Regions from separate parts of the Homo sapiens genome. Here regions 2, 3 and 4 are each linked to region 1. The links come from fine-mapping of genetic effects on gene expression. A gene starts in region 1. Each other region holds a variant in brackets. All regions are shown on one strand. Distances are between the middles of the regions.

Region 1 (7,948 bases):
AGTTGGGGAGACGCCAGGCTCTTTAAAAAACCAGCTCTCCAGTGAACTAGTAGAGTGAGAGCTCATTCATTCCTGGTGAGCAGGGCACAAAGCCATTCTTGAGGGGTCCCCCGTCATGACCCAAACTCCTCCCATTAGACCCCATCCCCAAAATGGGGGATCAAATTCTCACATGAGATTTGGAGGGGACAAATGTCCCAACCATATTGGGAGCATCTCAGCTCCAAATAATACCAGACTACTAGAGGGAGGAACACTGTGGGGTCTTCATGCTAGCTGCTTTCCATTGACATTTTCCTGGCCTCCAGACCTAGAAACAACCAAAAATAACTTGGTGAATGTACTGAAGTTATTTATCAAACATTTACTGAGACCACAACATTGTAAAAAAGACAGGGCTTAACACTAGGTGTAGGTTAATGATACTGGAAGATTTTGTTTCAATGTACTATATTTCTAACATCTTTCCAGAATCGTCTGTCCCAAAACAGAAACCATCTTGTTTCCTAGGCATGCTATCAGAACGAGAAAATAACTAAATTTTTCTTCAAAAAATAATTGCAAAATCCACATTGATGTAATACATTTTTAAGAAGTGAAGTAAGAGATAAAAATAGCTAATATTTGAGGCCAACCACTGTTCAGTATATTGTACATCTATTAACTCATTCAATCTTCACAATAACCTGATGAGGAAGACAGTATTTCTATCCCCATTTTGCATATGAGGGAAGTAAGGGACAGAAGAGCTAAGGAGCTTGCCCAAGTCACACTTAAGAGGCAAAATAGAGACCCCCTCACCCCAGAAGCAGGCCTCCATGGTCTACGCCCTTAAACATTGACATCTCCTGCCCTTCACACATACCTCTGTTAATCAAAAGAATAGGTCCAACAATGACGACTTCACTTCCTAAGTGAGTCCATAGGTTTAAGGTAGTAACAGGCTACATTATAGACCTTAACAAATCATATTCAAATTCTTCTAGAGTAATAGTCAATTCGATATATCATATAACTTTAAAATAATGATGGGCCAGGCATGGTGGCTCGCGCCTGTAGTCCCAGCACTTTGGGAGCCCAAGGCGGGAGGAGCCCTTAAGCCCAGGAGTTTGAGACCAGCTCTGGCAACGTAGTGAAACCATCTCTTTACTTTTTTTTTTTTAATTAGCCAAGCATAGAGGCCCATGCCTAGCTACTCGGGAGGCTGAAGCAGGAGAATCACTTGAGCCCAGGAGTTTGAGGCTGCAGTGAGTTATGATCACACCACTGCACTCCAGCCTGGGCGACAGAGCCAGACCTTGTCTCCAGAAAAAAAAAAAAAAAGATGTCACACCACATTTTCAAACACAAACACATTACCTAGCAGTCATTATCAAAAGCCTGTGCTAACTGGATTAAAATCAGAAACCTAACTGGTGGTTTAGGACAGAAACCTAGAAACTGTGCTATGGACTGAATGTTTGTGCCTTCCCAGAATTCATACACTGAAGCTTAGTCTCTAATGTTATGGTATTAGGATGTGGGGCCTTTGGGAGGTGATTAGGTCGCGAAGGTAGAGCCCTCATGAATGGGATTAGTGCCATTTTATAAGGGATCCCAGAGAGCTCCCTCACCCTTTCCCCATTATGTGAGGATACAAGAAGTTAGCAGTCTGCAAACTGTGAGAGCCCTCACCAGAACCCGATCATGCAGGCACCCTGATCTCAGACTCACAGCCTCTAGAACTAGGAGAAAGAAATTTCTGTTGATTTTAAGCTACCTGATCTATGGTATTTGTTGTAGCAGCTTCAGTTGACTAAGACAAATGGATTCAATTTTGTCTTAAGTTCTTGGTTTCCGGTAAACCAGAAGTAACTTGATAATGCAGTGCTGACTGCTGGGATTTTTCAGCCAGGTCCTCTCCAGCTCCCAGAAATGCTGGACTGACTATGTATTTTTAGGGACTCTCCTTGCTCCAGAGCCTGAAGTACTTTCTATTTTCGTGGTCTAGTCTTCATTCCTCTCACAATAACACAGAGAGGTCGCCAGGGTCTCTCTAAGAAGCACAAACCTGGCCTAGTACAGATGAGCTCATCAGTCACTCAGGGGCCTCTTCTTCCCCAGACTCCCCAGGAATCATAAGCTTCTAGGATGGGCTCCCCAGAGCACTTCCCTTCTTATTTACCAGGAAGAAGGTCTTAGAGGCTGCTTCCCCATTCTTCTTTCAGGCCAAAAGCCTTACCTCTTGCCTCTGCTTCCATTTCTGCTAGGTTCTCTTATTCCATTCTGTACATGTCAGAAGCCGTCAGGAGCCTCAAGAGAAGAAGAAAGAGCCATGGTGAGTCGTTTTACATTTTCCAAATGAACAATGAATTCCTAAAAGAAAACCTCAACTTGCAGCCTTCCTGCCCCCAGGAACTCCTAGCAGAAGAGCCCAGGTCCCAACAAAATGCATGGCAGCTGCTGCCCAGCCTCTGAGAGAATTAAGAGGCATTAGAGCCCCACGTGGCCGCAGAACAACATCTTATCCAGCCATTCAACAGCCAGCAGGCTCCCCTTTTCATGATGCCCTTTCCGCTGTGCCCTAGGGGGCTCACCTCTTGCAGCCTTGACAGTGCAGTTCTTGCCAGGTCCCAGCAGGAACGAACTGGAAACCTCCTGGGTTTCCAGCAGCTGCTGTGCTTCTGAACTGACTCTTCCTTGGGGGTGGCAGGCGCACTGCCTCCTTGTCTACCGCTGTGGGTTTAGACAAAGTGCATTAGGCTTCTCTTCTCCCCCGGGCCAGCAGGGTTTTAGCCCTACCCACTTAGGGGTCATTTCCACAAAATAAATATCCCCCCGGCTGATAAATCCCCCCATTCTTCCTTGATACGGGGTCTCTCCGGAAACACAACAGCCTAGGTTTCTTCCTCTTTCCCACCCAACCTGCTCACTCACTTCCATCTCACACTGCCACCCCCACCCCCAGCACAGCCACCAGAACCACCAGTCCTCAGCTTCAACTGAGCCCCTGGGCTACTTCAGCATGTTCTCCTCACATCTGTACTCACATATATCTTCCTACAAGTTCCCTCGCCCTTTCACGGGCTGAAGCTCTGACTCTCTCAGAGAACATTAGCTATTGGTCAGGAATATTGTGCAAAAGACTTCACTTAATTGGAAAAGTATTCATTCTTGGTGGTCCCCAATGCCCCCAGGCCCTCAGCCATAGGATGTGGCTCTCACCTGGACAGTAGACACCTTGCTTCAATTTTCACTCTTCGCCCCTGGAAACCGTCGGCTGTTGGGGGTGAAAGGAAACTCCATAGTACTATACTGAGGTGACGTTTCCACCACCAACCATCTGCTTGGGCCCCTCTTAATTCTCCACCGGAGACTGGGGCTGCCTTCCTCAGGGATCCCAGCTATCTCTCAACACCTCGTCTTCCTCCAAGACTGGAGTCTTCGTGGAGTTCTGAGGAATTCACTTTCCAAGCAAGAAGGTTTTGGGTCCTCATGTCATCTTCCTCCAAGACTGGAGTCTTTGTGGAGTTTTGAGGAATTCACTTTCCAAGCAAGAAGGTTTTGGGTCCTCATGTCATCTTTCTCCAAGACTGGCATCATCTCGGAATTCTCAGGAATTCACTTTCCAAGCAAGAAGGTTTTGGGTCCTCATGTCATCTTCCTCCAAGACTGGCATCATCTCGGAATTCTGAGGAATTCACTTTCCAAGCAAGAAGGTCTTGGGTCCTTGTGTCTGGGGGACTCAATGCCCCCAGGAATCCTCCCTCCTCATCATGGGTTGCTCGTTGCAAGTGAAAGTCTCGTGCAGTAGGTTCCCTGTGCCTTCTTCTCTGGCCCTGACTTTGACAGGAGACCTCTTCTGGTGCCTTCTGGACCACCTGCTGCCTTACATCTGGGCTCCATACCAGAATCACCAGCATCCACTCAGAGGACACTGGGCAGCTATAACACTTGTTTTTTGCCGGGGCCAGTCCTAGTCCAATAGGGTTTCCAGGCACCCACAACAGCTGCCCAGGCAGCAAATGTCAGTCAGTTGTAAACCAGCCGGGTAAGACTCACACTTTGGCTTCCCTACATGGACTTCGTTTTGGGAGAAATTCCAGGATTTCAGACTCTCAGGGCCCATGGTCACTGAGCTCAATGTCCCCAATAGGTCACACCCTGCAGCTGCACCTCTAAGAGCTTGTGCTTCTGCCAAAACAATAAGCTTCTACTAGATGGGTCAGATCCGTTCTCTGACTTGATGCAATGGCCACTGTCCCTTCAGTCTGGCCCCTCAGCATCTGAGTCAGTGGGAATGTGATGGGCCCCATATGTAGAAGGAAGAACTGAAAGGAAGCACAGGAAGAACAGGAAGGAAGCAAAAGAAGGAAGGAAAGGAAGCCACCAGCTTCCTGCTGAGTCTTGATTAGGGCTCCTGGACAGATATTCTCCTCCTCCTGTTGCAAAAACTGTTGGAATTAACATAAAGCCTCTGAGCCCAAGCTTCCTCAAGTGTACAATGAGGATACTGGAGTCCGGAATCTCTGAGTGCTTCTCTGTGATGGACAGAACAATGCCCCGACAAAGATGCTCATGCCCTCCTCCCCAGAACCTGTGAATATGTCACGGTGCATGGCAAGGGGGGAATTAAAGTTGCCGGTGGAATTTAGGTTGCTAATAGGCTAACCCTAAGATGGGGAGATTAGCCTCGATTATCAGGGTGAGCTTACTGTCATCACAGGGACCCCTATAAGTGAGAGAGGGAGGCAAGAGAAGTAGTGTCAGAATTAGAGACGAATTTGCAGAAGCTGGCTTTTAAGATGGAGGAAGAGGCCATGAGCCGAAGGATGCCGGTGGCCCCTAGAAACAGGAAAAGGCAAGAAAAAGGTTCTCCTCTAGAGCCTCCTGAGGAGCACAGCCTTGCCAACACTTTGAACTTTGCCAGTAGTTTGAACTTCTGTCTTCCAGAACTGTGAGATAATAAATCTGTACTGTTTTAACTCATTTATCTTGTGGTAAACTTGTAACAGCCGCCGTAGGAAGCTAATTCACCCTCATCCCTCACATTCACACCACAATCTCCTTCTTCTCACCGGCATTCCATCTCCTCTGCCTCCCAAGTCACAGAGCCCCAGGTGCCACAATGGCTGTGGAGTCTGCGGTGCAACCTCATTGCAAATATTTGTATGCTCGGAAGAAAAACACGAGTACAATGTCCTATATTTACGAGGACCTTACTACTCTTAAATCGCTGTCGTTCAAAAACAAAACAATTTTTTTCAGCGTGTTCTTATACGCCCATTACTGAGCTGGTCCCTGGGGATGCAAAGACACATGGACCTCATTGTTTTCCTCCAGGAATTCACTTGGAAAAAGAAACACGGGAGATGCTGCCTAGAATCCTTGATGCCTCCGAAGTTAGACTGGAGTTGGATTAACCCGGCCTCTCTCTGTGGAAATAGGAGATGGCTAGAAGAGTGACATCAATCAGCCACAACTGCTTCAGCCTCATAACGTCGGAGCAATGGTATCAGACTTGATGCAGAGACTACCCGGGCATATGTGGCTTTTTTTTTTTTAAATGTAGTGAAAAATTCCAAGTCACAGCCACAACACTGAACTATCAAAAGATCATTTCATGTTTTGGTTTGTATTAAATGCTCTTTGCACTTTGCTTTTGTTAGAGATGGCTAGAAAATTCTAGAAATAAGGAGTGCTAGAGAAGAATCACTGCTTAAGAGCAGGATCTCAAAGAATACATCCTTTGCCCCCTATATCCTCTCCCCTTTCTGATTCTCAAAAAGACACTTCAAACTGATAGATAGTCTTTATGTAGATGAATGGGACAAACTCAAACGTGAGAGTTGATCCTTTTCTTTTTTTTTTTTTTTTTTTTTCTCCAGATCCTGAGGAATTGCCATTAGGACCTGGAAACAAATATGTTGCGTGGAAGACTTACTGACAAAGGAACTTTTACTGAAGTCCTCCTCTAGTGCTGAATAGTGACTGCTGAAATGGCCAGACTGGCAACATATCAGGAGGCAAACTGGCATTCCTATTAGATGGAATGTCCAAGAAACCATACTTTTTTAATGGGGTTGAGGATTGCCTGCTTCTATAAGAAGATAGGTATTTTCTGTATCTAGCCAGGTGAGACCACACATTTAGAGTTATAAGACAGATTGACAAGATCAGAACTACAATTACAAGCTATCCACAAACTGTTGCAGAGGCAGACAATGTTTTCTGGATGCTTTCCTTAGCCTGAGTTTCTGAACCTACTACTATATGAAGGAGTACTGCCAAGACCTAGCCAAAAAACAAAAACAAAAAAGGCCCTGGTGGCTTCAAAGATTTTGACATTGAAAACTTGTCCCAGTACCTGAAACATACAATGTCATGTGTCAGCAAGCTCAGCCTGGAGCCCACACCTTGGCCATCTGCCCAGAATTCTCACCCCAGTTCTCTAAAACTCTACTCTTTCTTCTCGGGTGGACTACTTTTTGATCCCAAAGGGCAATGTTAATGGGGCTTTGATGCAACTGAGACATAGTCCAAAAAAAAAAAAAAAGGATACAGAGTACACAACACAAGAACTCTTAGAGGACACCTACTTCCAGATAGAAGAACTAAGTTCCTCATGTGTCCCCATAGAGATGCAACATTTTAGAAGAGAGTTTGAAGACCCAGCTGCCAATGGTCAATCACTGTCACATCGGAGGAGCTAGCAAAAGACACTACTAACAATTATGGGAATAAAAACTTCCTTGTTACTTTAAAGTTTTCAGATCATCTGTTAAAGCTGATAAGGCCATTGGCATCTATTCTGTTCATTGTACTCTGTCTCCTCTTTTACTTCCCTCCCAGTCCCTATCCTTTGCCAACTATATTGTTTACCAATTGTCTCCCAAGGGGGATGGGAGCAGTGGTTTCCCCCACATATATCTTTACAACTTTTCTTACAGCACCTCTTGGCATCCAGCCTCCAGAATTTGCTTCTCCTGCAGTGATTCTGCTAGTTCACTCTTCCTTGGAAAGACCACTGCCTTTGACTCTCAAAGTGGCAACAAATTTCTCCTTTCCCCCCATTTCATCTCAGCACAGGGCTCTCCATCAGTTTTAGAGGGAGCTGCAGGCATGGAGCAATTCAGCATGCTCACACCAGCAGCAGCATACAAAATCATTGACCATGAAGCCACCTGTTCCGAACACCATTGTCAAAACCAAGGACCCAAAGAAGTATAGCACACAGGCTTGCCCCTGGGTAAAATGGAAATGGAAAATGGAAATGTCACCAGTAGAGGACAGCCACACTACAGACTGAGGAATGGTGCACCGTGTGGGCTAGGGTTGGTCTGTGGAGAGAGGTGAGCCCTTTGACATGGGCTGGCTAGAAACGTCCTCATGAACAAGGAAAGATATATGACACGGGTGTTCGAGAAAAAGAGCGTCTCAGCAATAGACAGAAGGAGGAAGGAGAAAAGAGCATCCACAGCATGTTCAACAACATAGAAGACCTTTCCCAGGGATGGTAGGGAGTGTGTAGGAGAAATGGAGAAATGGAATGTAGAAAAGATCATAGGGGCCAGACTATGGTGAGTCTCCATAAGTTGAGCTAAAGAGATAAGACTTTATTCTGTTGGCAGTGGGGAGTCCTTGAAGGGCTTGAAAGCAGGGGTGGGGTGGTTCCACTACAGGAAGGTTAAAAAAAATGACTCCCACAGGGTCCATGGCATGGACAGGTAGAAAGAGGAGTCCGAAGGCAGAGAGACCGCAATGGGCTGAATGGTTGCCCGAAATAATTCATGTCCACCCAGCACCTCAGAATGTAACCTTATTTGGAAATGGAGTCTCTGCTAATGTTCCCACTTAACATGCGGTCATACCGGATTGGGGTAGACTCTGAATCCAGTGGCTGGTGTCTTCCTAAGAAGAGAAGACATGCAAAGAAGAAAAGAATGGAAGCCTCCTTCATAGGCTCCTC
Region 2 (7,948 bases), 440 kb after region 1:
AATATTATATCCCGTATTTTTAGACAGTTTCTGGTGGGAGAATTTCAGATTAGGTCTGTAATACTGCTGCTCATTAGATCTTCAAAATGGGCTTGTGAGGCATGCCATGCCTCTCTTGCAGATGAGGAAGCAGTATTTAGAGAGGTTAAGTAAGGCGTGAAGGGTTATCACATAACTCTAAGCGATGGTGCTGGCACTGCACTTCAGGGTTTTCTGACTTGAATACTTACACTTACTCCACTGCACTAGCTTTACCCACTCTTCCTCTAGCAATTATATGGCATAGGGGTGGGCTGTGTTTTCATCGAGAGCACAGTAAGCAAAGGACAAGACTTACTTTCTGCAGATTGTTTATGTCTTTACTCTGTTGTCCTGTTGCAGTGTAAGGAGAGGATGAGGCCCGTGAAAAAGGCACTGAAACAGCTCGACAAACCTGACAAGGGGCTCAACGTGCAAGAACAGCTGGAACACACCCGGAACTGCCTGCTGAAAATCGGAGACCGGATAGCCGAGTGCCTTAAAGCCTACTCAGATCAGGAGCACATCAAACTCTGGAGGAGGTAACCACTTTGGCCTCGTCTGCCCAGTTTGATTTGACTGAGTGTGGGAGTGGATTCTGTTTTCTTTTAATAAAAGGTGGCATAGCCACCTAAGAAATCTTTCTCCCAGCACAACTCATCTATTGGCAATATACCTGCAGGCTTTAACTCCCTTTCCATGAAATAGGCCATTCCACTGAGACCAGCCTTTTGAAGGGGTAGGACGATGTCATTAATTTATTTTATGAGAGAAAGATAGTGTTACTGGATTTGCTGGTCTATTCTCAGAAATAAATTTTCTTTAAGCCTACAAGGGGCAAAAATCATCTGGTCTTAACTACTTTACCCATCTCAGGTTGATATCCAGATATTCAGATATTACTGTATCTAATACAACTAATTGGTTGGTTCTGTACCAACACATGGTGACACAAAGATTAAAACCGCAAGAACTATGAGTTCTCTATTCTCATATGCTTTTTTAGTAATTAAAGTAGTAATTTGGATTAAGTTAATCTAGAACTTCAGTGTTTAAGGCATCATGGTTTATAAATGTTCCTTTATATAGCCACTGAAACTTTTTTAAAAGATTTCAATAGTTTTAGGGAAACAGGTGGTGTTTGGTGACATGGATAAGCTCTTTAGTGGTGATTTCCGAGATTTTGGTGCACCCATCACCCGAGCAGTGCACACTGCACCCAGTGTGTCATCTTCTATCCCTCAGCCCCCTTCCCCCCAGAGTCCGTTATATCATTTTTATGCCTTTGCATCCAATGTTTGGTTTTCCATTCCTGAGTTATTTCACTTAGAATAATGGTCTCCAATTCCATTGAGGTTGCTGCAAATGCCATTATTTTATTCCTTTTTATGGCTGAGTAGTATTCCATGGTATGTATGTACCACATTTTCTTTATATACTTGTTGGTTGATGGGCATTTAGGCTGGTTCCATGTTTTTGCAATTGCAGATTATGCTGCTATAAACATGTAAGTGCAAGTGCCTTTTTCATATAATGACTTCTTTTCCCCTGGGTGGATACCCAGTAGTGGGATTGCTGGATATATATCCACTGTCCACTTTGGATATTTTAAGAAAACATGACTGGAAATTTTTTTTTTTTTTTTTTTTTAAATGAGACAGAGTCTGACTCTTTCACTCTATCGCCCAGGCTGAAGTGCAGTGGCACAATCTTGGCACTGCAACCTCCACCTCCCTGGTTCAAGAGATTCTCCTGCTTCAGCCTCCTAAGTAGCTGGGATTACAGGTGCCTGCCATCACGCCTGGCTAATTTTTGTATTTTTAGTAGAGATGGGGTTTCATCATGTTGACCAGGCTGGTCTCGAGCTCCTGACCTTAGGTGATCCGCCCGCCTTGACCTCCCGAAATGCTGGGATTACAGGCATGAGCCACTGCGCCCAGCCATGGCTGGAAATTCTAAAAGGCAATTGTAACATTAAATCTCTTTCCATTAATCACAGTTACTTCGTTTTTATTTTATTTTAGACTCAGAGGGTACATGTGCTTGTTTGTACATAACCACAGTTACTTTGAACTTGTATATAGTTCATGGATAATGTGATTATCTTTGTATAATATGTCCAATCTCAGAGGACTGGTTTTTGAGTGAAAAGTGGATTTAAGAAAACTTCTGCATGATGGTGTCCACAGCATGCTTCACACCTATAAAGAAAAGATTTAATTTTCAAAATGGTACTTTTTTTTCCGCTTAACACTGTTACCAACTTCTTTCTTTACCTAGCGGCATCTGGCCTTTTTTTTTTTTCTTCTTTTTAAATTTAACACTGATTAGAAGATAGCAAAAGGTCATCCCAGTGAACAGACCCATTTTTAAATGTGCCAGGCACTGTGATCTTGGCTAGCAGTAGTTTATAAGGTCCTCGCCCTTTACAAGTCAAAAAAGTAGTACAAGGTAAGCCCTCGGAGAAACTGTTCGTCATGAGGCAGCAAATGCAAGCCCAGATAGAGTGGAAGTGTTGAGAAGGAAGTGCGTGAAGAGTAGTCAGGAAGGAAGGTCTTCTGAGAGGCAGGCAGGTGCACTTGAACTGAGCATACATGAGCTGAGTCGAATTGCTGAGATGAACAGAGTTCTCAGGCTTCAGCAAAGGCTTGAAAGTGGGACAGGGAGGGGACTGGGTGGTGTTCAGGATTTAAAGACAGTTTGCTAAAAAGACTGAAGCTCTTTATAGGAGGCTTTAGACAGGAAGGTAAATGGCTCTTCACCTGATGCAGCAGGCTTACTAGTTAGGGAGCCTGTACAGGTGGTCCTGTCAGCAGCAAGCCATGGTGAAACTACCTGTTAGGAAGTTTGAGAAGATATGAGACTCCTTTATCTGGCTCACTCTGACTACCTGTGCTTACTCTTTCTAAACACCTGTCTCATCATATCATTCCCCTGTTGCGCAGTAACACCATGCTAGGGTGAACATAATGGAATTGGAGGGAAAAAGCCACTGAGAGTTTTAAGGAAGAAATGAAAGGTTGTGGTGGCGACAACTGGGAGGAAGGAGGGGCAGCAACACAGAGATGACCAACTGAATGGAGGCCACAACCTGGGAGATGGTGGTGCTGATGGATTTGTGGTAGAGTCCAGAAAGTGAAGGAAAACTTAAAAGGACTGGAGTCTGGGGTGTCATTGATAGAAATTTGGAGGAGTTCTAGGTATTGATAGAGCCTTAGTCTCTAAATCCCTCTGTCAGACTCTTTTGGCAGAACCATGTAAAGGTGTACGGTAAGTCCTCACATAACGTTGTTTCCTTCAGCTTTGTTTCATTATAACATTGATGAGAAAAAAAATTGATTTTGTTTCCCTTAAAGTTGCAATTTCCAAGAACCTATCGACAACATTAAGTTAGGACTTACTGTATTATTAATGCAAATACCTGAAATAATATTTCTGTAGCTTAATTTCTATGCTTAGGGAGTATACCACAGCAAAATTTAATAGCTTGCCATCCATGAAGATCATAAAAAATTGCTTTTCTAATTCTATAATTCACCAGAACTGTTCATTTTTCTTTTTAGGAACCTATGGATTTTTGTTTCCAAGTTTACAGAATTTGATGCTCGAAAACTGCATAAGTTATACAAGATGGCTCATAAGAAAAGGTCTCAAGAAGAAGAGGTAAAGTACAAATTCAGTCCTAATTCATACAAACAAATACCAATTCCACAGAAAAATCTCTTAATTTTTGTTTTTCCATGGGGAGATGATCACAGAATCATGGGTTATTGCTGGTGCTAATAGTCAAACAATAAGACCAGATGGGTGAAATAGCCAATGTATTGGAGCCTAACATGGTTGAAATTCTGACAAAGAGTGTTTACCCTGTGTTTTTAGGTCCTAAAATCATTTGTTCACCAGGTTTTTTCTTCCATTTGCATTTTTCTTCTGTACATGTCAGTAGCTTATAAATGTGGCTCCTAGGAAGTAATAGGGTGGTGGGCAGAAAATACTTTTTCTCTTCTTTTCTGGACCATCTATTTGGTGTCCTTCCAGCTTTTGTATGGAAGGGGTCCTGCTACTCACTTGTGAGAGGTGCTCAGAAGTTGCCTCTCCTTTGGAATAGGGGGATGGGTGCAGAAGTGACATGGAGGAGGCTGCAGAGGCAGTGCTCCTTGTGTGGGTGTGCCCATTTGCAGATCTGCTGACTTGCCACATGGGCTGTACCCAAGTTGGACATTGAGTTCAATCTGTGAGCATTAAATACCACCTCCACTAATGCGTCAGCTCCATGAAGACAGAGATTTTATGTCTCTCATCTACTGCTGTGTTCTCAGCACATAGAATGGAATAGAATGGTGCTGGGGACAGGGAAGCACTCAGGAGTATTTGTTATGCTGTGCCCAGTGCTGTGTTGGCCTGTGAAGCAGCACCCTCAAGTAGTTGAT[G/A]ATTTAATTTTACATGGAAGAATATGTTATAGCAGTAACATACAGGAATCATATACTAATAAGCATTATAAAAAGTCTATAAATGGATAGTCCGGAAAGGCCCCAGGAGGGAATGAAATAGTTAGGAAAGGCCCTTTAGAAGGGAGTGAAAATTAGGAAGAGGGTCTGAAGTTGGACACATAATCATGAAAGACTTCATTCATTTAGGGATCAGAATGAATAACAAAACAGTATAAGCTGAATAACAAAAACAGTGGTATCCTACTAGTGGGAGTATACATTGTCACAACCTTTCTGGAGGAGAATTCAGCAAGATTTATTAAAAGACTAAAGCATGCAGTTTTGCTTCCAGGAATTTAGTTTTGAGAAGGAGATAGAGATTTAAACATGTTTATAATGGAAATGGCTTGGAAGCCCAACAGTAAGAAATACATTCAATGTGGCTAGGCGCGGTGGCTCGTGCCTGTAATCCCAGCACTTTGGGAGGCTGAGGCGGGTGGATCACTTGAGGCCGAGAGTTCGAGACCAGCCTGGCCAACGTGATGAAGCCTCATCTCTACATAAACTACAAATATTAGCTGGGTGTGGTGGCACATGCCTGTAGCCCCAGCCCCTCAGGAGGCTGAAGTGGGAGGATCGCATGAGACCAGGAGGTGGAGGTAGCAGTGAGCTGAGATGGCATCACTGAATGCCTGCGACAGAGTGAGACTCTGTCTCAAAAAAAAAAAAAAAAAAAAAAAAAAAATACAGAAAACAAAAACATTCAGTAGTTCATGATATATCCATATTGGGGAGTATTAATCAGTTATTAAACATAATATTGTAGAAATAAGTATTTACATGGAAAGATTTTCACAATACATGAAGTGAAAAATGAATACCAAATATTTTTGTTTAAAATATAACTACAAAAAAAAGCTTAGAAAAATACGTGCCAAATTATTAACAGTAATTCCCTTGCTGGTTAGGATTTGGGTCACTTTATTTTTTTTATTGTGTGATTTTTTTTATATCAAACATTTGACTTGTGTGATAAGGAGTAATGTTACTCCAACATTCAGATATTTAGCTTGATGACTTGGGCATAGGAGTTAGTTCCCACTGGACAGTCGAGGGTTGTTTGTTGTGGTTAGCCTTGGAAAGTTGGTAGTCTTGGTTTTACATGGTCCAGGATGATCCTCTGAGAGTGCCGCCAGCCTGGGCGCCTACACCATACCCTGTACAGTGACATCTAGCAGTCTATGCATGTGTTCTTGCAGGTACTTAGCAGTAATGGTCAAACTCAGCATAAATTCCACTGAGTTCCCCCAGCAAATAGCCTAACAGTGGAATTTATGAGCCTTTTTTTTGTTAGGAGGTAGTAAACGCCAGTTCAGAAGTTTAAGAAGGACAAGAAGGAGCTGTTTAGAGGTGATAGCCTTTATTCTTCTCTGGGGAATTAAGCCTGGGATCTTGAGCTTCTTTGGTTTCCTTTTACTCTTTAGGAGCAAAAGAAGAAAGACGACGTGACTGGGGGTAAGAAACCATTTCGTCCAGAGGCCTCAGGCTCCAGCCGGGACTCTCTGATATCTCAGTCCCATACCTCACACAACCTTCACCCTCAGAAGCCTCATTTGCCTGCCTCCCATGGCCCACAGATGCATGGACACCCAAGAGATAACTACAATCACCCCAACAAGAGACACTTCAGTAATGCAGGTAGGTCATTAAGTGGAGTTTTTAAAAGAGGTGCCAAAAGATAAAAAATTCACACAGCCGTTTCATTTTCCAAAGACACTGGCTAGACTTCTGTGCTTTATTATCTTCTAACACTTTATTGTCCTCTCTTTTCTTAATGAGAGAAAGCATGAAATAAAGATCCCCCAATTTTTTTTTTTGTTTGTTTGAGACTGAGTCTTGCTCTGTCACCCAGGCTGGAGTGCAGTGGCACAATCTCGGCTCACTGCAACCTCCACCTCCTGGGTTCAGGCGATTCTCGTCCCTCAGCCTCCCGAGTAGCTGGGATTACAGATGTGCACCACCACGCTGAGCTAATTTTTAAATTTTTAGTAGAGACAGGGTTTTGCCATGTTGGCCAGGCTGGTCTCAAACTCCCGGCGCCATGTGATCTGCCCACCTCAGCCTCCCAAAATGTTGGGATTACAGGTGTGAACCACTGCGTCTGGCCCCCAGGACTATTATTTCAACTTCCGATTAAGAAGAACCCAGCTAACATGAACAAACGAAAAAGACTGAGGGAGAAGTTTACATTCTGTATGACAGTGAAATGGTTAAAACTGCTAATCTTGAAAGAGCTCTTGTAAATTGAGAACAAAACAATAACTGAATAGAAAAATGGGCAATCAACAGAGTGAAGAGACAGTTTATGTAAGGGGAGAAAATATTACCAACCGTACATCTGATAAGGGGATAATATCCAAACTGTGTAAGGAACTCAGCTCCTTATGTAGCAGGAAGGCAAATGCTCGATTAAAAAGTGGGTAAAGGACCTGAATAGACATTTCTCAAAAGAAGACATACAGATTGCCAACAGGTATATGAAAAAATGCTCAGCATGACTGATCATCAGGGAAATGCAAATTAAAAGCACGATGAGATATCACTTCACACTTGTTAGGATGGCTAGTACCAAAAAGTCAAAAGATAAGGGTTGCCAAGGATGTGGAGGAAAGGGAACCCAGCGCATTGTTGCTGGGAATGTAAGTTAGTGCAGCCATTATGGAAAACAATGCAGAGATGCCTCAAAAAAATCACAAACAGAACTACCATATGATGCAGCAGTCCCTTTACCAGGTATATATTCAACGAAAATGAAATCAGTTATGTTGAAGAAATGCCTGCACTTACATATTCATTGCAGCATTATTTACGATAGCCAAGATACGTAATCATCCTAAGTGCCCATCAGCAGGTGAGTGGATAAAGAAAATGTGTATATACACAATCGAATAGTATTCAGCTTTAAAAAGAAGGAAATCCTGTCGTTCGCAACAACATGGTTGAATCTGGAGGGCATTTATGTTAAGTGAAATAAGTGAGGCACAGAAAGAGAAAAACTGCATATTCTCACTTACGTATGGAATCTGAAAAAGTCAAACTCATAGAAGCAGGGAGTAGAACAGTAGTTACCAGGGTCGGAGGGCAGGGGAGAATTGGGAAGATATTAACAACGGAGATAAAATTTCAGTTAGATATGAGGAATAAGTTGAGAAATCTGTTGTACAGCATGGTGACTGTAGTTAATAACAATGTATTATATAAGTGAGGTAGTGCATATGTTAATTAGGCTGATTGAGCCATTCCATAATGTATATGTATTTTAAAACATTGCATTGTAATCAATAAATACATACAATTTTTAATTGTCTATTAAAAAATTTGTACAGTCTGGGCAACATAGACTCAGTCTCTACAAAAGTGTGAAAATTAGCTAGGCGTAGTGGCGTAGTAGTCCCAGCTACTTGGGAGGCTGAGGTGGGAGAATTTCTTAGGCCTGGGAG
Region 3 (7,948 bases), 210 kb after region 1:
GCAGGAGAGTCACTTGAACCTGGGAGGTGGAGGTTGCGTGAGCGGAGATCACACCACTGCACTCCAGCCTGGGCAACAGAGCAAGACTCTGTCTCAAAAAAGTAAATAAATAAAAATAAAAATAGGCCGGGCACAGTGGCTCACGCCTGCAGTCCCAGCACTTTGGGAGGCCAAGGCGGGCGGATCACGAAGTCAGGAGATCGAGACTATCCCGACCAACATGGTGAAACCCTATCTCTACTAACAATACAAAAATTAGCCTGGTGTGGTGGTGCATGCTGGTAATCCCAGCTACTCAGGAGGCTGAGGCACAAGAATCGCTTGACCCCAGGAGCTGAGATCATGCCACTGCAGTCCAGCCTAGCAACAGAGTAAATAAATAAATAAATAAATATAATAATAATATATTATTATATGTAATATAATAATATATTATTATATATTATATTATATGTAATATATTATATTATATATTATATTATATGTGATATATTATATTATATATTATATTATATGTGATATATTATATTATTATATATTATATGTGATATATTATATTATTATATATTATATTATATGTGATATATTATATTATTATATATTATATTATATGATATATTATATTATTATATATTATATTATATGTGATATATTATATTATTATATATTATATTATATGTGATATATATTATTATATATTATATGTAATATATTATATTATATGTAATATATTATATTATATTATATGTAATATATTATGTTATATTATATGTAATATATATAATATATATTTTATCATATATTTTATCATATAGTATATTTTATCATATATTTTATCATATTTCATCATATAACATATTTTATTATATATAATGTCATAATATATTTTATTATATATGTCATAATATATTTTATTACATATAATGTCACAATATATTTTATTACATATAATGTCACAATATATTTTATTACATATAATGTCACAATATATTTTATTACATATAATGTCACAATATATTTTATTATATATAATGTCACAATATATTTTATTATATATAATGTCACAATATATTTTATTATATATAATGTCATAATATATTTTATTATATATAATGTCAATATATTTTATTATATATAATGTCACAATATATTTTATTATATATAATGTCATAAGATATTATATATAATGTCATATTTTATTATATATGTCATAATATATTTTATTATATATAATGTCATAATATATTATTCTTCCATGTATATGTTGTTTTACGCAAAAAGCAGAGGAAAAATATATTTTGTATTGATTTGTATAGGCACAAAAATACCTTTGGGGCAAGATAGGAAGTGGGCATATGTGCGGTAGGGTAAGGATGGAGAAAAGAACTTCCCCATATACCTTTGGCTTTTTTTTTTTTTTGAGACAGAGTCTCACTCTGTCACCCAGGCTGGAGTGCAGTCGCATGATCATGGCTCACTGCAGCCTCGAACTGCTGGGCTCCAGTGATCCTCCCACCTCAGCCTCCCCAGGTGCTGGCACTACAGACATGTGCCACTACACCCTTGCAATTTTTTTTTTCACAGTGAAAGATTTTACTTTATTTTTTTTTACTTTCATCCAAACATACCCTTTTCTGAAAAACATAAAAGCATGCACATCAATGGCATCCCTGTAAAGAAAAAATAATAATTAAGCTGTAAATCAATAATAATAATACAAACTTTTAAATGATATGTGAAAAGATTTACAGGTAGTCATAGGGCTCTTAATTTTAGAAAATAATAATTCAAGTGAATATCAATACAGGTTAGGGAGAAGCTTTTTTTTTTTTTTTTTTTTAGATGGTGTCTCTCTCTTGTTGCCCAGGCTAGAGTGCAATGGTGCAATGGCACGATCTCGGCTCACTGCAACCTCTGCTTCCCAAGTTCAAGTGATCCTCCTGCCTCAGCCTCCTGAGTAGCTGAGATTACAGGCATGCACCACCACACCCCGCTAATTTTGTATTTTTGGTAGAGATGAGGTTTCTCCATGTTGGTCAGGCTGGTCTCAAACTCCCGACTTCAAGTGATCTGCCTGCCTTGGCCTCCCAAAGTGCTGGGATTACAGGTGTGAGCCACCGCTCCCAGCCTGCAAACATTTTGATACAAAATACTTTTCAGCAATAATATTTTATAGACCTTTTGTGAGAAGAATATTAGTATAGTCCTAAGAAATACAATATTCAAGTCTTTTTTTTTTTTTTTTTGAGATGGAGTTTCACTCCTGTTGCCCATGCTGGAGTGCAATTGTGTGATCTCGGCTCACCACAACCTCCGCATCCTGGGTTCAGGTGATTCTCCTGTCTCAGCCTCCCGAGTAGCTGGGATTACAGACATGCACCACCACGCTTGGCTAATTTTTTATATTTTTAGTAGAGATGGGGTTTCTCCATGTTGGTCGGGCTGGTCTCAAACTCCCAACCTCAGGTGATCTGCCCGCCTCAGCCTCCCAAAGTGCTGGGATTACAGGCATGAGCCACCACGCCTGGCCTCAAGTTATCTTACGCAGGTCAGGTACTGGTTACGCACGTCCGTGTAAAGAGACCACCAAACAGGCTTTGTGTGAGCAATAAAGCCTTTTAATCATCTGGGTGCAGGCCGACTGAGTCCAAAAAAGGAGTCAGCAAAGGGAGATGGGGTGGGCCAGTTTTATAGGATTTGGGTAGGTAGTGGAAAATTACAGTTAAAGGGGGTTTTTCTCTTGTGGGCAGGGGCAGGGGTCACCAGGTGCTTGGTGGGGAGCTCCTGAGACTCAGTCCAGGAGAAGGAATGTCACGAGGTCAGTTGTTCAGTTAGGGTGGAGCAGGAACAAATCACAAGGGTGGAATGTCATCAGTTAAGGCAGGAACTGCCTATTTTGCTTCTTTTGTGGTTCTTCAGTTGCTTCAGGTCATCTGGATGTATACATGCAGGTCACAGGGGTTATGATGGCTTAGCTTGGGCTTAGAGGCCTGACAGTGCCCTTGTTAAAATGAGTTAGAACCTACATAATCCCAGTAGCATTGCCTCTTTAAATGTACAGCATATCTATGATATTCAAAATAAACACAGACATGGGATTGATCTAAATTTTACTTTACAGGTAAAAGAAAATTACAATTCAGCATGAGAACATTCTTCATAAGTTTTACCTATGGCCCCAATGATAATTAGGCCAACTGTATCCTGAGTGTATATGAATGTGTGAATACATACACATACTAATGTATACAAACCAATTCACACAACACGACTCTCCAGAGATGTTGCTTGAAGCACCAGAGAGTAATTTCTTTATTTTTAGTTTTGAAGAGACAGGGTCTCACTAGGTTGCCCAGGCTGGTCTTGAACTCCTGGCCTCAAGTGATCCTTCTGCCTCAGCCTCCCAAAGTGCTGGGTTTACAGGTGGGAGCCACTACACCTGGCCGCCTTTTGTATTTTTTAAAGCTTGAAGCACATATGTGTATTACTTATTAAAAATTTAACAAAGAATTTTAAAAAGAGAAAGAAAGGCCTTTTAGAGGATAGGTCATTTTAGGACTCCCTGGTTCCAAGATATAACTCAATTGTCCTGTAATGAGATAGATACTTCCTGAATCTATTGGGGTTTAAGATTAAAAAAAAAAAAAAAAAAGAC[G/A]TTCTCTTATTCAGACCCATTTATATAGTTCTCATTGCCTTTTCTCATTATGCTCCTGAGGCTCATTTGAAGCTAACACTCAAGCACCAGTGACATCTGGTAACATGGGTAACCCTGGGCAACCAGCTTCTCTCATAGTTGTCATAGCAACAATGATGTTCTGACAGCTGAGTTTTCATCGTGAAGTAATTATCAAGCTTTGGGGAGGGCTCCTCCATGTTTGCAGTTGTTTACGTCAATGAGGTTTATGAATGAACCTCAATTAGATGCAATTTTGATTGAAGTGTTAAGAGAGGCTGTGAATTGAGTCAGATTTACATATCCTTCCACCCAGCCTGGCAAATCTGGTGAATTGTAGGCCTGGTGCAATTCAGAGAGGGGGTGTGACTTGCACTTCAGCCATCAAAAGCCACTGGATATGCGAGGCTTGGTGGCTCATGCTTGTAATCCCAGCACTTTGGGAGGCTGAAGTGATCACCTGAGGTCGGGGGTTCGAGACCAGCCTGGCCAACATGGCGAAACTCCGTCTCTACTAAAAACACAAAAAAAGGCCAGGCACAGTGGCTCACACCTGTAATCCCAGCACTTTGGGAGGCCGAGGTGGGCGGATCACCTAAGCTCAGGAGTTCGAGACCAGCCTGACCAACATGGTGAAACCCTGTCTCTACTAAAAATACAAAAATTAGCAGGCATGGTGGCACACGCCTGTAGTCCTAGCTACAGGGGAGGCTGAGGCAGGAGAATCCCTTGAACCCAGGAGGCAGAGGTTGCAGTGAGCTGAGGTCACGCTACTGCACTCCAGCCTGGGCAACAGAGTGAGACTCCATTTCAAAAAAAAAAAAAAAATTAGCTGGCTGTGGTGGACATGCCTGTAATCCAAGCTACTCGGGAAGTTGAGGAATGAGAATCTCTTGAACCTGGGAGGCGGAGGCTGCAGTGAGCCGAGACTGCACCACTTCACTCCAGCCTGGGCAACAGAGCAATACTCTGTCTCAAAAATAAATAAATAAAAATGTTTTTTTAAAAAGCCACTGGAAGGCTGAAGACCTGGCACGTTCCAACCTGAGATGAACAGTTTCTTCTCTATCCTCTGTTCCCCCACCCAACCACAAGTAGCAGGAACAGACCCAGCAGGTCCTTGATTTCAACCCAGCATATAAAACAAAAGTTCTGATTTGTCAAAACTTTGTAAAACCCATATGTCTATATAATTAGCCCCATTTCACACTGGCGAAACCTCGGGTTTAGACTGCTCAGACTCTTTCCGCTGGACAGCAGTGAAGTCAGGACTCACAGCCACATCTCAGCTTCTTCCACTTCTGCCACCTGCTCAGAGCCAGGAATAAATATTTCTTTGGGTTATCTGGAAAGTGACACTGAGCCTTTCTTACGTCCACAAGCCTTTGTTAAAAGAACAAGTGCTTCTGCATCTATCAGCCAAAGTCAGTAGAAGTGGCTTGGTTCTGGCAGCCAAGAACCCAGCTTGTTGGTGACAAGCTCCTGGTGACACATATGAACTCTTAACCTCTGATTTGAGTGAGGAATTGTAACCAAGTGCCCCTCATTTTTCTAAGAGATAGTTTGTTTCTCTCCCTTCTTTTCTCATTCCCCTGGTTCCCCACTTCCCACTTAGTCCCTTAGAAATGCAAATATAGGCCAGGTGCGGTGGCTCACGCCTGTAATACCAGCACTTTGGGAGGCCGAGGCAGGTGGATCACCTGAGGTCAGGAGTTCGAGACCAGCCTGACAAAAATGGTGAAACCCTGTCTCTACTAAAAATACAAAAAATTAGCCAGGTGTGGTGGCGCATACCTGTAATCCCAGCTACTCAGGAGGCTGAGGAAGGAGAATCACTTGAACTCGGGAGGCGGACAGTGCGGTGAGCCGAGATTGCACCATTGCACTCTAGCCTGGGCATGAAGTGTGAAACTCCCTCTCAAAAAAAAAAAAAAAAATGTCCGGGCGCGGTGGCTCACGCCTGTAATCCCAGCACTTTGGGAGGTCGAGGCGGGCGGATCACGAGGTCAGGAGATTGAGACCATCCTGGCTAACACGGTGAAACCCCATCTCTACTAAAAATACAAAAAATTAGCCGGGCCTGGTGGCGGGCTCCTGTAGTCCCAGCTACTTGGGAGGCTGAGGCAGGAGAATGGCGTGAACCCAGGAGGCAAAGCTTGCAGTGAGCCGAGATCACGCCACTGCACTCCAGCCTGGGCGACAGAGCGAGACTCCTCCGTCTCAAAAAAAAAAAGAAAAAAAAGAAAAGAAAAGAAAGTTAACAGTAGCTTCAAACAATAGCCAAGGAAGTTAGAGTCACAAGGTGTTGGTTCCCTACGTAACAACTTAACATATGTCCCTGAGTTTTTCAGAACTCCCACCAAATGGATCCGCTGGCACGTAGACCTCAGCTAAGGGGCAAACTGAGGACTGCACTTTGACTACCATTCTTTGTCCTGAAGTTCTTCCTGAGAGGCCTGGAGGAAGTCACACCCACAAGGCAGTGCTCACATCTTCTGCTGCTGACCCCAGCTTTTTAAAGAAAGCTTCTCCTCCTCAACCAACTACAAATCAGAAAATCTTTGAATCTACCTAGGACCTCTAAGCACCACCCTCTAACCCTGCTTCGAGATATTCCATCTTCTAAGGCCAAACCAATGTATAATCTCCATGTATTCATTTACAATTTTGCCTGTAACTTCTCCTTTCCTGAAATTTTCCCCTGCTTTTAAAAACCTTTGCTTACAAGCCATCAGGAAGTTTGGATCTTAAGCATGAGCTGCCTGATTCTCCTTGCTTGGTGCCCTGCAATAAATGATTCACTTTCATTTGCTGCAATCCCAATATCACTGTTTCGCTTTGCTGCATACACACACACACACACACACACAAACCACAAAGAACGAAAGAAAAAACAGTGTAAAAAAATGTAAAATTTTTTTAAGAGAAAATCTAGCGTGTATATATTTTATATAATATTTTTGTTTAACTATATATACAGACATATATATGTTACATGTGTGTATTACATATATACATATGTTATATGTGTGTGTTACATATATACATATGTTATATGTGTGTTACATATATACATATATATGTTATATGTGTGTGTTACATATATACATATATATGTTATATGTGTGTATTATACATATTTTGGGGGCAAGGGGGTCTCGCTCTGTTGCCCAGGCTGAAGTACAGGGGTGCAATCATGGCTCACTGCAGCCTCAACCTCCCTGGCTCACTTAATCCTACTGCCTTAGCCTCCCAAGTATCTGGGACTACAGGCACACACCACTGCACCCAGCTAATTTTTGTTTATTTTTTTTTTGGTAGAGACGGGGTCTCACTATGTTTCCCAGATTGGTCTCAACTCCTGGCTCAAGCAATCCTCCTGCCTCTGCCTCCCGAAGGCTGGGATTACAGGGGTAAGCCACTATACTCGGCTGCAAATATATATATATTTTTGAGACAGAGTCTCGCTCTGTCTCCCGGGCTGGAGTGCAGTGGTGCGATCTCAGCTCACTGCAGCCTCTACCTCCTGGGTTCAAGTGATTCTCCTGCCTCAGCCTCCTGAGTAGCTGGGACTACAGGCTTGCACCACGACGCCCGACTAATTTTTGTATTTTTAGTAGAGACAGGGTTTCACCATGTTGGCCAGGATCGTCTCGATCTCTTGATCTCATGATCCGCCCGCCTCGGCGTCCCAAAGTGCTGGGATTACAGGCGCGAGCCACCGCACCCAGCAAGCTGCCAATATTTTTTAATTAAAGCTTTATTGGTAGCTTAAAGGTTTGTACACCTAGGCCAATGTACTATCGTTAGATTCAGGATAGACAAGAGTTAGGAAAAGGGAGATTATGAAAGAAGTGGGAAAGGAAACTGCAACTTTATCGCAGGAGAGTTCCCAAGGCAGATCAATTTTAGAAAAGAGTGCATATAAATATAGGAGATTTGGGCCAGGCGCTGTGGCTTATGCCTGTAATCCCAGCACTTTGGGAGGCTGAGGCAGGCAATTCACATAAAGCCAGGAGTTCGAGACCAGCCTGGCCAACGTGGCAAAACCCCGTCTCCACTAAAAATACAAAAAAAATTAGCCAGGTGTGGTGGTGGACACCTGTAATCCCAGCTACTCAGGAGGCTGAGGCAAGAGAATCACTTGAATCTGGGAGGTGGAGGTTGTAGTGAGCCAAGATCACGCCACCACACTACACCCTAGGTGACAGCAAGACTGTCTCAAAAAAAAAAAAAAGGAGATTTGGAAATGTATTTCCTTAAAACAAATCCACA
Region 4 (7,948 bases), 94 kb after region 1:
TCTTGGCCTCCCAAAGTGCTGGGATTACAGGGATGAGCCACCATGCCCAGCCAAGGTGGGTAGATATTGATGAGAGAGATATAAAGATAGATAGATAGATGTTAGAGATAAACGATAGAGAGGTGATAGATGGGCATATAGGTAGAAGAGAGAAATTTATACATATTTTCTATATACTGTACATACATTCATATATGCACAATAAATACAAGTCATTTAATTCCAGTACACCACTAACTGTGTGATCTTGTTTAAACCTTATGCCTCAGTTTCCTCATCTGTAAAATAGGGCTAATAAGAGAACCTATCTCATGAGAGTATTTCAAGGACCAAATAAGTTAATACTTGGAACATGCTTAGCAAAATATCTAAACAATGGTTAAGTGCTCAGCAAATGTTAATTATTAATAAAATATCAGAGCAATGAAGAAGGATCACTGAAATGGCATTTAACTATAAATCACTTTTCCAGCCTTCAAGGTTCACCAATATCTGAGGGAGGGAGTTTCTGATGCCCTGGCTGGGACACCTCCAGGAGACAACAGCTATGGAGCAAAACCAGATCCCTGAGTTAATAATGCCTAAACCACCTTGGAATTCAGAGCAGGAACACCCTTTGGACACCTCTCACCTATTTGCTGTTTTATACATATGTAGCCCAGAGGAAATAGGTCTCAGTGAAGTAACCTAACTGTTTGGAAGACAGACATTCTCCATTCTCTGTGACTAGCAGCTGACTTAAAACAGAAGGACACAAGAAAATATATTGGAAGAAAATATACCAACATGGTTCGGTTTGGTTTGGTTTGGTTTGAGATGGAGTCTCTCACTGTCGCCCAGGCTGGAGTGCAGTGGCCGATTGTGGCTCATTGCTACCTCCACCTCCCAGGTTCAAGCCATCCTCGTGCCTCAGCCTCCCAGGTAGCTGAGATTACAGGCACGCACCACCACACTTGGCTAATTTTTTGTATTTTTAGTACAGACGGGCTTTCACCATGTTGGCCAGGCTGGTCTTGAATTTCTAGGCTCAAGTGATCCGCCCACTTAGGCCTCCCAAAGTGCTGGGATTACAGGCATGAGCCACAGTGCCCAGCCCCGGAAATATAACAACATGTTAATAGCAATTATCGCTAGATGTGTGATCATGGGGCATTTGTGTTGTCTTTACTGCATCAGACTTTACTGCAACAGACTCTAGGCTCTGTAATAAATATGTACTAATTTGGCAGTTTTCTTACATGCAGTACATATATTAATCTTAACTATTTTATTTCCTAAAATGAATATGACATGACTCACCTTTGTTTTTAACATACCCTCAGGCAAAGGGCTTACAAAGATGACCAGAGATCAAACTCTGGAGCATGCGTAAGGAGAATGTGAGAGGCAGACTCTCAGTTCCCGCTGCACCCCATACTGCTGACACAGTGTAGGGAAAATAATTTTTAAGGGTAGACTGAAGAGGGGTAAGGAAATTCCAGATAACAACGTCCACCATGCATTGAGCTTTGCAGGCATAATCACACATACCTTTCAACCCTATGGGAAATAGGCATTAGCATCTCTATTTTACAGAGGGGGAAACAGAGGCTTGTCAATTTAGGGACCTGAGAGAGGCACATGTGCATGGGCAGTGGAAGAAAGGTCTGGCCTGGTAAGGAAATCCCCTTCAGCCCTTGGAGAGTTATTTCTGTTCCAATTTGGAGAAGCTGCTGACTACACATCTACCTGAGGGGGACCCACAGCAAAGGAGTGGAGGGGAAGTCCAAGACGACTCAGCCAGAAACCCAGCGAGCAACCCCACGGAGTGTTCCAGCCCATCTTTCATTTCTTCCTAGACGTCACTAGCACTCGTCATCTGGAAGGTTTCTTCCCACAGCAACAGATACGTTTTGTGCCCCTGTTACGGGCTGGACACTTTCGGGAAAGGAATAAATATATTGCATGTGGCCTTTAGCCTTAAGCACAGCCATTCTGATTTGCAGACAAGACATGTTGACTGTTGAGCTAATCACTAGTAAATAAAATTTCCAGACCCAAGAGAAAAGGATGAGAAGGAGTAGAGGATCCGTCCTGAGTATATTCCACAATCATTGCTAGAGACGTTCAGATGCAAGAACTCATGTTGGCTGCATGCCCACTGTGTGCCACACTCACCTCACATGTGTCTCATTAGTCCTCACAGCAACCCTCTGTACCCCATCATAGCCTCCCCGGTTGACATGCAAGGAAATGAAGACCTGCGGGGTCCTACAGTGTCTGGGGCCAGACCAGCACCAGGGCACAGACCCCGAGCTCAGTCTTTCCAACTCCTAAGCGAGACTGGGGTTGTCTCCAAAGACAGTGAGGCATTGCTCCATTAGAAATACCCCGTCTCGCTCCACGGTGCTGGGAATATCAGAGAGTACGTTTGGAAAAGTAGAGCTGAGTAGTGGGAGAACCCTCTGCAACCCCAGTGAAACCTCCTGCGTGCAGGCCGCAAGCACTCGTGTAAAACGCAGGCCCCAAATACTAGTAAATGTCATGATCAAATCCACTTCTCAGACAGACTCCTTTACACACAGTTGTTATCATCCACATAATAAAAGGAATTGGATTTCCCTCGTTTGTCTTAAGTCTTTGCACAATTTCCTCCCACCTTTCCTGGGCCTGCTGGGAGGCTCCGCACAACCCCACTGGGTGGAAGGCAGAGTAGGCAGGGGAACCCTGGGCCTGGCAGTTTTGTTACAATACTGTGTCACAACACAGACAGGTGGGGTGGCCAGAGTCAGGCAGAGCGACACAGGGTGTGTCAGGTGGCTCTCTTGTCCCTGCCTGTGCACACACATGATGGAACCCTGGTACAGTAACACAGCATTCAGTTGAGACCGAGGAAAAATAAACGAGGGACAATTCATCCTAACCTAACTCAGGACAGCGGCCAACCCTCTGGTTTTGCCTGGGTCTGAGAGATTTCCAAGGATGCAGGACTGTGTTTTTAAAAGCAGGTTAGTCCCAGACAAACCAGGAAGAGCCGGTCAGCTCAGCTGACCTCTCTACCCTCAGGTAATGCAGCCCCTTGCCTTTATATTCTCCAGTCCTTCCTCAGCCCACTCGCTCACCCCGCCCCTCTGTGTCTCTGAGCAGCCAGGCAAGCTTGAATACTAGCTAATATTTATTGAGCATTTACTTAGCGTCAGGCGCTTTACATCAGGCCTAAGGAGAAAATACGGTTATCACCTCCTGTCACAGATGAAGAAACTGAGGCTGGCAGAATTAGTGTATACAAATAATTCCATAAAACCAGCTTCTGCGCACACTTGAGCTTATAAAAGGTCTCCATACTTTGCCTTCCCAAGTTTGCCAGAGAGAGGGAGACAGAAAAAGAGAGAGAGAGAAAATGAGTGATGAGTGAGAGAGAGAATGAGAATTAAAGGTCTCTCCCTCCATCCTGGAGGGGGACAGGCTGCATCTCAGACATCAGGCCCTCTCAAGGGATCAGAGGATCAAGCCCATCCTCCGCTTGCTCTCTGCACCTCGCCTGTGGAGCTGACACAGCACCAGCTGCAGCTCATTTTACTCCCCGCCAGAAACGAGGGTGTTATCATGTGATATTTTTGCCTCTTTTTATAAATAATTCATCCTTTTTTGCACAAAAGTAAGATAGCCTGAAGCTAGAACATTTAAAAGGAACGTCAGCCCCTTATACATAAACAATAAAGTGCTAGTTTGCCAGAAAGT[T/G]TGCGAAAGTCCCGAAGCTAAAATACACCTCGTTCTAGGTCTATTTTTAGCCTGGAAAAGGCTTTCCGATGTCTTTCTCAGTTCACACGTGATAAGGGCTGTGTTATGCTTTCTCTGAAATGGGGCTTTCCCAAATCAGTTACATTTGCACAGGGAAATCTAAAAGATAACTTGCCAAATAAGCATACTTATGAAATCCAAATCCCAAGTACACAAATGCTTTTTTTAACTCCACAAAAATAAATTATAAACAAATTGATAATGGAGTCTACGGTCAACCACGGCTATGAGAAATGGGGCCACAGATTGTTAACGTTTACAGGAGTCTTTTTCCCAAGACTGAGAGGGAGTTTTCCTTTGCAGAAGGATAGCAATTCTGGAGCTGGAAATTACAATCGTAAGAACAATTATGGGAAAAACAATTATGTTTGATGATAAGATTTGGGCCTCCATGTTATTGTGGGCTCCCTTATCCCCTTGATGTCATGCATTAGTTTGGTTTTTTGTTTGTTTGTTTGTATTTGGGACGGAGTCTTGCTCTGTCACCCAGGCTGGAGTGCAGTGGTGTGATCTCGGCTCACTGCAGCCTCCGCCTCCCGGGTTCAAGCGATTCTCCTGCCTCAGCCTCCCAAGTAGCTGGGACTACAGGCACCCGCAACCACGCCCGACTAATTGTTGTATTTTTAGTAAAGACGGGGTTTCACCATGTTGGCCAGGCTAGTCTCAAACTCCTGACCTCAGGTGATCCACTCGCCTCAGCCTCCTGAAGTGCTAGGATTACAGGCATGAGCCACCATGCCCAGCCTCATGCATTAGTGTTTTATGAGAAAGACATTTTATTTCTTTACCTAAAAGGATTTTTTTTAATACTAACATTGCTGTTGTCAAAATATCTTCAGAAGGACACATGACAGACTCATAATGTTGGTTGCCTATGGCAGAGGGTGACCAACCATCCCAGTCTGCTGGGGTTTCAGGAGTCTCCTGGGATGAGGACATTTCAGAGCTAAAACAGAAAGTCCTAGACAAAGCAGGACCAGTTGGTCACCCTACCTAGGCAGGGGAACTCTGGATGGCTGGAACAGGGGCAGGAAAGGGAATAGTAACTGTATCCCTTCATGCATTTGGAATGTTGAACTATGTAAACTTATTGCTGGTTAAAAAAAAATAGGTTAAAAATGTTCTGTCAGTATCATATGAGAGGACTCTTTTTAAATCAGTAGATCACTAAGCGTAGCAAAGAAAAGGTTACTGGACCTATGCAAAATTTATATCAATACATTTAAGGTCTGCTTTATTATTTCATTTGTTTCTGAAATATGTCCTCCAAAAGACTTCACAATTATTCACCAAAAAAACTCAAAAATTTGCAGTTCTTTAATCCTCATTCTCACAACACCAGGCCACTGAGGCTCACACTGTTGTTCCATTTTGAAGATTAGGAAATGGAGACCTAATGAGGTTATCTGACTTGCCCCAGGGTTGGAAATGAGCGTGCCATGCAGCCCGTGTCCCCAGGGCCGCCCTCTCCCGTGCTGGCCTACTTTACAGCTGGCTAGTATCGTCAAACCATGGAAACAGCGAGCTGTTGCCAAAGAGAAATATTTCTATGAAAGTTTCTGAAGTGTCCCCTAGGAGAGCCTGCAGACGTCAGTGACGACATAATATTGCTGACAGAGCCCTCCCCACCAATCGTGCTGCTCAGAGAGTGCCACCCATGGAGCAACTTTTTAGGAGATTCCCACAGGATGGAAAGTCCTGAGGTGCATACGTGGAGGGACCCCACCTTTGAGCTCAGGTGGACCATCTGTCCACAGTTCCTTTCACAGTGCAGTACTTTTCCCATACACATCAAAGTTGCTTTGGATCGAGAGGCGAAGACCAGCAGGGCAGAGCTAAGCAGGCCACAGACATCTTTCCCCAGAAAAGCTGAGGGTGAGAGGCAGGGCGGTTCACCCTCCGGATGGCTGTTTGTAAAGTAAATATTGATTTTGAGCCATCCCCCAACCTGCTCAGGAAAACACACCAGCTGTTGCTTCTGCCTGCAGCTCCAAGTGGCAGTCACTCCCATGTCCAGAAACATCCTCTCCATACCTGTCCCCACTGCAATTCCCACAGCTGGCATCGTCAGCCTCTCCGTGACAGTGGAGTTAGACCTCACGTTTGCAGGAATTTGTGTTTTAATTCCCAGGCAGAGCTCGGGCCTCTGAGGGTTAGGGACACAGAAAAGGTCAGTTTGGGGATGGCCCCGGGTGGATGGCTGTTTCTCCTGTTCCCCACAGTGTGGAGCCCAAACCTTCACCCCTGTGTTGATGCATCCTAGACCCACTTTGGACATTTCCACCTCACAAGTAACGTTGGCAGCCACTTCCCGAGAGGCGCTGCTCTGCGTTCCTGACCATTTTTTTCTCACTCCTCTCCAGCCTCAGGGATACACCCTCCTGTTTGAGACCAGCCCCCACACGTTGGCCCTGAGTTCAACCCTCCTCCACCTCCTCTGAGGCTCTGCTTCACGCATTACCTCTGCTTCCTCCTGTATCTTCACCCTCCAGTAGATATTTCCCATTCTGGTTTCTCACTGAGAAAGAAAAGAAAAGAGAAACCAAGAGGGAGAGAGGGAGAGAGAAAGAGAGAGAGAGGGGAAGAGGAGAGGGGAAGGAAGGAAGGAAGGAAGGAAGGGAGGGAGGGAGGGAGGGAGGGAGGGGGAACGGGAGGGGGAATGGGAGGGAGGGAGGGGGAGCGGGAGGGGAGAGCCTACAACTTTGTGTGTCTCCCTTTTGCCCTCCCTGAACCTCTAAGTGGCATTTGATGATGCCAGGGCTTCCTGCCTTGGAGGTCTCCAGTTTTCTATCTTCCCTCTGACCTCTCTGTCCCCTCTCTCGGGAGCTGGCTCCTCTCCCTTTTAACTCAGTCCCCAGGGCTTCCTGCTGAGTTCTTTTCTCACTCTGGCCCCTCTCCCTGGGTTCTCAGGTACCCAGCATGTCCCACACAAGATTCTTCATCGTTCCCCAAAACCTGCCCTACCTCCAGAGCTCCTACGCTCTGCTGGCCACCACACTGCACTTGGCGGAGGCAGGAACCTAGGGGTCCCCCTACAATCCCCCCATTACTAAGTCCTTCCTCTTCTCTCCAGAAACAGTCCAAATCCAACCACGAGTAAGTTAGTGTAACTTGTTTGTTTATACGTCTCTCAAAACACACACACACACACACACACACGTAATGTCCATCAAATCAGGAGTTGTGTCTGTTTTGTTCATTGGCTATTTCTTCATCAACCAGAAATGTATCTGGCACACAGTAAGTGCTCAATAAATGTTGCTGGACTGAATGGATAAGTACCTACTGCCGTAGTTTATAGCAAGCAACAGGAGTTGAGTGCACGTATTTAAAGTCAGAAGGCAAGAGCTGGAATCTTGGCTTTGCCATTTACTCTCAGTGTAACTTGCACTAAATTAAACCTTAAGTCTCAATTTCCTCACCTGTAATATGGGCATAAAGATAGCAGCTCACTTATCATTAGGATTAAATGAGATAGCACATGTAGAGAACTTAGCATAATAACTGGTACGTATTAAGTCATCAATAAACATTACATATTATGTTTCTTATTGTTGTTCTTTCCTGTCCTCATGTGTCACCTGTATTATAACATCCTTCCAACCGTTCTCCAAGACTCCAGGCTCCTCTCTTCAGGAGAATTCCCACCCTAACATCGTAATCAGAGTGATCTGTCCAAATGCAAAATCAAGCATAATACTCCCTTGCTGAAAACCCTTATGGGGTTTAAACTCTGCCAGTAGAGTCCTAATTCCTTAGTATGGGCCCAGCTTCCCCACCCCCACCTCCCAGCACCCCAAACTCTAAATTCACTAAACTCCTAGCTTCATCTACCCTTACCTCCCAGCACCCCAAACTCTAAATTCACTAAACTCCTAGCTTCATCTACCCTTACCTCCCAGCACCCCAAACTCTAAATTCACTAAACTCCTAGCTTCATCTAACCCTTACCTCCCAGCACCCCAAACTCTTAACTTTACTAAACTCCTTCCATCCGAGCCTTTGCCTAAACTGCTCCCTGGTTCTTCCACCAGGAATGCTCTTCCTTAACCCTCTCCTCTCCATTTTTTGCTTAAAGAACTCCTCCTAATCATTCTACAAACAAGACATAAGCTCCTTTGTGAAGATTTTGCTAATCTCTTCTGCACAATCCCCCACCACCCCATAC

Which allele goes with the higher level. Alleles are on the strand shown, and positions count from the first base shown. SD is a standard deviation of normalised expression in the study named. Not every link is listed here.
For the expression in esophagus muscle of the gene that starts at base 4,282 in region 1, allele G in region 4 goes with a lower level than allele T (moderate effect, 0.44 SD a copy in GTEx).

What was found. PIP is the estimated chance that this variant, and not a neighbour inherited with it, causes the effect.
Region 2: its variant is the best candidate, but not a certain one, in a credible set for the expression of LINC00930 in sun-exposed skin (GTEx, PIP 0.66).
Region 3: its variant is the best candidate, but not a certain one, in a credible set for the expression of LINC00930 in whole blood (TOPMed, PIP 0.82).
Region 4: its variant is the best candidate, but not a certain one, in a credible set for the expression of LINC00930 in esophagus muscle (GTEx, PIP 0.73).

The regions. Positions count from the first base shown.
Region 1 is chr15:92,567,982-92,575,929 of GRCh38, forward strand. It overlaps LINC00930 (long intergenic non-protein coding RNA 930), which reads right to left and starts at 4,282. Exons shown (of 4, transcript NR_021493.1): 1 at 3,205-4,282; 2 at 2,577-2,715; 3 at 2,222-2,292; 4 at 1-310.
Region 2 is chr15:93,008,764-93,016,711 of GRCh38, forward strand. CHD2 (chromodomain helicase DNA binding protein 2) reads left to right here. Exons shown (of 39, transcript NM_001271.4): 35 at 382-560; 36 at 3,582-3,681; 37 at 5,933-6,146. Among named protein-coding and RNA genes, the nearest start is that of RGMA, 76 kb to the right of the region's middle. The variant G/A (reference allele first, on the strand shown) is at 4,449.
Region 3 is chr15:92,777,161-92,785,108 of GRCh38, forward strand. LOC101926994 (a long non-coding RNA gene) reads right to left here. Exons shown (of 3, transcript XR_001751667.3): 3 at 2,906-3,066. Among named protein-coding and RNA genes, the nearest start is that of CHASERR, 100 kb to the right of the region's middle. The variant G/A (reference allele first, on the strand shown) is at 3,656.
Region 4 is chr15:92,661,657-92,669,604 of GRCh38, forward strand. No RefSeq gene overlaps it. Among named protein-coding and RNA genes, the nearest start is that of FAM174B, 9.9 kb to the left of the region's middle. RefSeq lists enhancers at 1,694-1,813, 2,194-2,243, 2,731-3,230. The variant T/G (reference allele first, on the strand shown) is at 3,721.